2 separate regions of the Homo sapiens genome follow, and region 1 is linked to region 2. The links come from fine-mapping of genetic effects on gene expression. A gene starts in region 2. The other region holds a variant in brackets. All regions are shown on one strand. Distances are from middle to middle. Region 1 overlaps IARS1 (isoleucyl-tRNA synthetase 1). Region 2 holds the start of NOL8 (nucleolar protein 8).

Region 1 (2,918 bases), 56 kb before region 2:
AAGACATCGGGGAAACACACAAAAAAAACATTTAAAGTGTGTATTTCCCTGAGAAAACTGTATCCTTTTATTTTTACAGAGGAAAGTTTTATAAATTGTATTTAATTCAAGGAAAAAAAGTTAAAAACCCCAGAAACAGATTATCTTATGTCATGATTCTAGAAAGGAATAAAGAGGAAAAAAGATGAAATAAGAAAGGGGCAAAGAAAAAAACACCCTATTCTTTTAAACCACATTCAGATTTCATGAACAAAATGCTTTAGCAAAAATCAACACAAGGAAATACTGCCATGCCTCACCTCCTCAAAGTCATCGCTGACCCACAGTGGGATGGGGGTGCCCCAGTATCTGTTTCTGGAAATTGTCCAGTCACGTGCATCTTTCAGCCAATTTCCAAATCGTTTTTCTCGTACCAACTCTGGGACCCTGCAATAAACAGATCACATAACCAATCACATAAAAATATGGAAAAATTCAACATGTAAATAATACCCACAGGAGCCTTTGTATAACGCTTTGTGGACCAAACACTCTGGAAACGTGGCGCTCACTGCAAAGAGAATGTCTTCTAAATGGACAGCATAGCACACACAACAGTTTGTGCTGCCATCAATGACCTACATCCAATAGATTACCCCACAGCACACAGGCCTCCCATGTCCTCCTCTTCAACTGGAGTACAGCTGCCACATACCTCTAACCAGTCACCTTAGCTTTAGCCAGCCTCATCCCATACAACTCTAGTCTTCACATTATCCTCACCATAGCAGTTTTTCTGAACTCATTAAGCAAAGGCCAACAGGCCAGGGGATTGGTAGCTGCTCTAGCAGCCCTCTCTATAGTCACCTCTCTGGTCATCCTTGGTCTTGAATTTCAGGCTCTGGCAATGAGGCAAGTTCCCTAGAATCCTTCTCACTTAACTGGCTTTGCCCATGCCTGCCCTCTGACACGCAGCCTGCCTGCCCTCTGACACGCAGCTTCCCTCCCTTCTGCATCCATCCTCTTGCATCCCTCCCACTCCCAGTACTCTTTATTCCTTGAGGTTCAGCTTTGCAGAAATCCTTTTCAAGCACAAGGCTGAGTCAGGGTAGGCTACCAGACCTCCCCTTCTTCTCTTGGGCACTGCAGTTACTGCCCTGTACTTCAAAGATCAGTTTATATGCCTGCACCCCCTCGAGGCTATCTTACTAATATTCTATATCTAGTATCTTACACATTAGGGGAACTAATTAGCTTACTAGCTCTAAAAATGAAAAGCTGTCTTTTGAGAAATCAGGACCACTCTGCTAAGAAATATTAGAAAGCTACAGTTTATAACTATTTCCTTTGCTGCCCTGAGATTCTCCCCATTCTCCTAAACTCAGATACAGTTTTCTAGAGTCTAGTTGGGTCCTTGTGAGAA[GT/G]TAAGAGTGGTGATTACTTTTCAAACTTGTAGTGAAAAACATTCATCTGAAATACACAGGTTCAAGCCTTGTTTCATTTTGTACCCAGAGGCTGAAATGATACTTCTTGGGCTATCACCTGCAGGACACATATCAGCTATGGAAAGCAAAGGCTTCTGTGCTTGGAGCTTATCCATACAGCCAAGCACAGGGTACATCATCCACTGCAGGACCAACAAGAGTAAGTACAAATGGCTTTTGCAGGTATATCTGAAAATAATGTTTACTCTGAAAATGACTATTATTGAAGGCTAGCAAACTCTGGCAGTACAGCCATATTTTTCCAAGGTCATTTCATTCCCTAAATCGAATAAATGGTGGTTTATCATTTCCAATGAGTTTAAAAAGAAAAATACTCCCTTACATACTTTATCACAAGAAGGATGTTACTTCTGTTCTGTAACATTATTTGAATTATTTTGTGCTCCTAAACACACAGAAGAAAAGATAGCTATTACAATACCCAATAAAAGATGGGTTATTAAAATTATAACTTGGGGGAAGTGTAAACCATACTTACTAACCACATGACAAAAGACACTATGAAGAAACACATCTTACTGCTCACCAGTAGCACAGGTCATTGTTCCTTAGGAGCTGGTCCACCATGTTCTCCACTCGCACAAACCAGCTGGGCACTGCTTTGTAAATTAGAGGAGTGTCTGATCTGGGGAAGCAGAAACACACACATAGCTGCTCAGGCTGAGACTAGTAGGCACTACGGTAAGACTGACTTTTCATGTCTTATTGACAGCATCATCACTTACTTGGCCTTCTGCTAATATTCATTTTTATTATAGATAAAAACATCTAAGACTTCAAAATTGGTCATATCTTTCCACAATAGTAAGAAAGGCAAAAACTAATACAAGAACAAGAGTAGAAAAAAATAGTTCTGCTAGTGACAATTATCTAAGAAACAATGTCAACTTCAACTTCAACACAGAAGAGGCAATGTGGAAACCAAACACGATGCAACTGAACATTTCATTTTCACCCATACTTTTACAGCATGGTCTTATATTAAAGGTTAAAATCATATTAAATTTTTCAATAAACTCTATTACAAAATTTTAGAGATGCTTCTCATCCTAAAAAAAATGTGGCCACAATACAAAACAGATTTGTACAGGTCTATTTTTCTCTCACAGTTCCTTAGGAAAGCAACATTTTTAGCCATTCATAAAACTCTCCTAGACCAGGCGCTGTGGCTCATGCCTGTAATCTCAGCACTTTGGGAGGACAAGGTGGGAGGATTATTTGAGCCCAGTAGTTTGAGACCAGCCTGGACAACATGGCGAAACCTCATTTCTATAAGAAATGCAAAAATCAGCCGGGTGTGATGGCACCACCTACATAGTTCCAGCTACTCCAGAAGCTGAGGTGGGAGGATTGCTTAAGCCGGGGAGGTGGAGGGTGCAGTGAGCTGTGATTGCACCACTGCATTCCAGCCTGGGCGTCAGAGTGAGACCCTAT
Region 2 (2,909 bases):
AAAACTTTCTGTGGGTTTCCTAAAAAACAAACAAACAAACAAACAAAACAATTTATTTAAATTCTTATCCAGAGAGCAATGTAAAAACGGTTGTTTCTAAATTAAAAAAAAAAATAGCTCTTGAAAACTTATTATTTCAAAGATAAACCTTGTTTTTTATTGGCTATAAAAATAAGCATAATTATCAAAATATTCCAAAAAAAAAAAGAAGAAAATGTCCAGTAGTCAGATAAGGAAACATTTTGATTGTATGCTAGTGATAGTCTACTTAACGGGACACTTAATCCATGTTAGAAAATTCTAGTTCTCAAAACTGGAAGTTAATATGTTTCTGAAATCAGATGTTTTAGAATTTGGAATTTTTTCTTATTTCAGAAACAAATTCTGGTCAAGTTCCACATCACACATTATACCTCCACAACATCACTTAAAACTTTTGGTGTTCAGAGCTAACATTTATCTTGGGGTTGTTTTATTTTCTAGCACTTAACCTGAGTTATGTCTGCCTATAACTGCCCAGTGAAGGACCATAAATTACCTTGGTCATCTTTCCGTGTGATGATCTCCACATCCGAAACTTCTCCAAATCTGCTGAACTGATTTTGTAGGTCTGCCTCAGAAATGTCCTGGCTAAGGCCACCCACATAAAGGCGCTTCGTTTCTCTGTTCACTTTCATGAAGGCTGGGCATATACTTGGGTGTGTTTCAGTGGGAAAAGTAATTTTCTGTATACAGAGAAGAGTTCTTTCCCTTAGTTCTTCTAAAATCTAACAAAACAACTACTTCCTCTGAACCTTCTGTATCAAATCCGTCTCCTGGATCTGTATTTCACTTCCTATTGTATTACTTCCAAATTTTAGTCTTCGAGGTTTTGCCCAAGCCCTACATCCACATCTTTCATGAATGCACTTTGGAACAGCAACCCCATACCCATATAGACACAGGTACAGACAGAGTTTTTTTCCTCCAAATGGCCATAATATTACACTCTATCCCTCTTAATTTTATGTATTCATGTTTTTAGATGTTTTTCCTTGACTCACTCATACATTCATTTACTGTCTTTAACAAAGTCTGACAGAAACAGGATGTAACGCACTAAAAGATAAAAAGAGCTAGCCTACCTCTTCCTAATTGTCTCCACCCCCAACCTACCCACCCCAGCCTTCTTCCTCCTAGAAGACCCAAAGAAGTGAATAGAGAGGCTAGGAGCTCCTTATAGTCACAAAAGAATAAAACAAATGGCACAATATTATGTCACAATAAAAGTGCTGCAAAGTGGGGTTCAGACACAAAGATCAAGGGATATAGCGAATACAGACTTGTGTTTTTGCTATGTGCCTGCATTGTACAAAGTAGTTTGCATGTTTCCCATTTTTCAGGAGAGCAGAAGAGGTTAAGTCACTTCCTCAATGCCATACCGAAAATTAGTGAATCCAGGATTATAATGCAGGTCTACCTTCAGAACTTGGAATTCTTAACACTATACTATGAAGGTTGCTGTATCACAGGGGACTCAGGAAAACTTTTCCAGAGGTACTAGGGCCCATCATAGTATCTCTCATTTCGTTTAGCACCCGGCAGGCGCTCAGCTCTCGCCCTTCCCTTCCCCAAGAGCTGACAGACTCTTTCCAGAAGAGACTCCCAACCAGCGTCCACCACATGGCGTGTATTCTGGGCAGAACTTCGGCCTACCTCTTCCCGATAGTCTCCGCCCCCAGCCTACCCACGGCAGCCTTCTTTCTCTGAGAAGACCCAAAGAAGTGAAGAGAGACTAGGAAACGGCCCTGTGACTTCTCATGCCCGAAACCCACTCCTCACCACGTCGTTCACCTAAAGCCAGCGCCGCTGCAGCCCCTAACTTCTGGTCACGTGTCCCAACGGAGCATCCTCTCTTCCTTCCTACTCGATTTCCAACCCAGCCTCCTAAGGTTCCGTTACCACAATTCAGTTCCCAAGAGCTTTTAATTTCCTTTTCCGTCCTCCCACCTTCCCTGACGCCTCCGTCACCTCCCCCTCAACGACTGCAAAAGAGCCTAAACCAAAATCCCCTAGTTTCTATTGAACACTATCGCTGTGTGTACCAATTCCTGGACTAGGTCGGCGTAAGAGAGGAAGTAGGTGAAAAAAATAAAGAGGCGCTCCCCTCCACGTGATCCCAGCCCTGCCTCTTTAGTGAGGCACGCGGCCGGGCGGCTCCAAGGCTGCCGGCTAGGGTGAGCAGCGGAGCGCTTGGGCTTGGAGTAGCAAAGAACGCGCTCTCCAGAGAAAGTATAGCCACTGCTTAGACAGCCAGGGAAACGTGTGCGGGGAAGTGGAGGACTCAGGCTCTCGTGCGAGAGCGGAGTTGGACGTGCAGGGCCGCTGGGGTCACGCGGAGCTCTCCCGCCTCCCCTCCGCGTGAGCTCTGGGATGGTCCGCGCCGGGAGCGCGCGCGAGGCTTGAAGCGCGGGTGAAGCGCGCAGGTCGGAGTGACAGCTGCGCTGCCGGCCCGGCTGCGGTCAGCAACGCGCCATGGACGCAGAGCTGGCAGAGGTGCGCGCCTTGCAAGCTGAGATCGCGGCCCTGCGGCGAGCGTGTGAGGACCCACCGGCGCCCTGGGAAGAGAAGTCCCGAGTCCAGTACGTGACCACCCCAAGTCCCCCAGGGCCCGCTGGCCAGGGTTCCCGGGCCAGGCGGGTGAATCTCCACAGACATCCTCGGTCTCCTACTCCCAGCCCTAGAAAGTGGGCATGAACTGGCATTGATCCTGTCATGACGATGGCCTAGAGTTGGGAGCAGCGCGTACGGCGCCCAGCTGTAAACGCATTGCAGGGTATTAACTCGTTTAATCGCAGTCGTCTGTGTGGATGACTGACAAGGAGGAAGTCTTGACTATATCCCTAGCTAGATAATTCCGCCTCCAGTAT

Evidence for each region. PIP is the estimated chance that this variant, and not a neighbour inherited with it, causes the effect. A credible set is the group of variants that fine-mapping cannot tell apart.
Region 1: its variant is the best candidate, but not a certain one, in a credible set for the expression of NOL8 in blood mononuclear cells (TOPMed, PIP 0.89).

What each region holds. Positions count from the first base shown.
Region 1 is chr9:92,267,875-92,270,792 of GRCh38, forward strand. IARS1 (isoleucyl-tRNA synthetase 1) reads right to left here. Exons shown (of 34, transcript NM_002161.6): 13 at 2,011-2,109; 14 at 300-426. Among named protein-coding and RNA genes, the nearest start is that of MIR3651, 23 kb to the right of the region's middle. The variant GT/G (reference allele first, on the strand shown) is at 1,403.
Region 2 is chr9:92,323,485-92,326,393 of GRCh38, forward strand. NOL8 (nucleolar protein 8) reads right to left here and starts at 1,866. Exons shown (of 17, transcript NM_017948.6): 1 at 1,822-1,866; 2 at 539-725; 3 at 1-19. The coding sequence starts at 677. CENPP (centromere protein P) reads left to right here and starts at 2,469. Exons shown (of 8, transcript NM_001012267.3): 1 at 2,469-2,621. The coding sequence starts at 2,515. RefSeq lists enhancers at 1,148-2,036, 1,815-1,934, 1,965-2,074.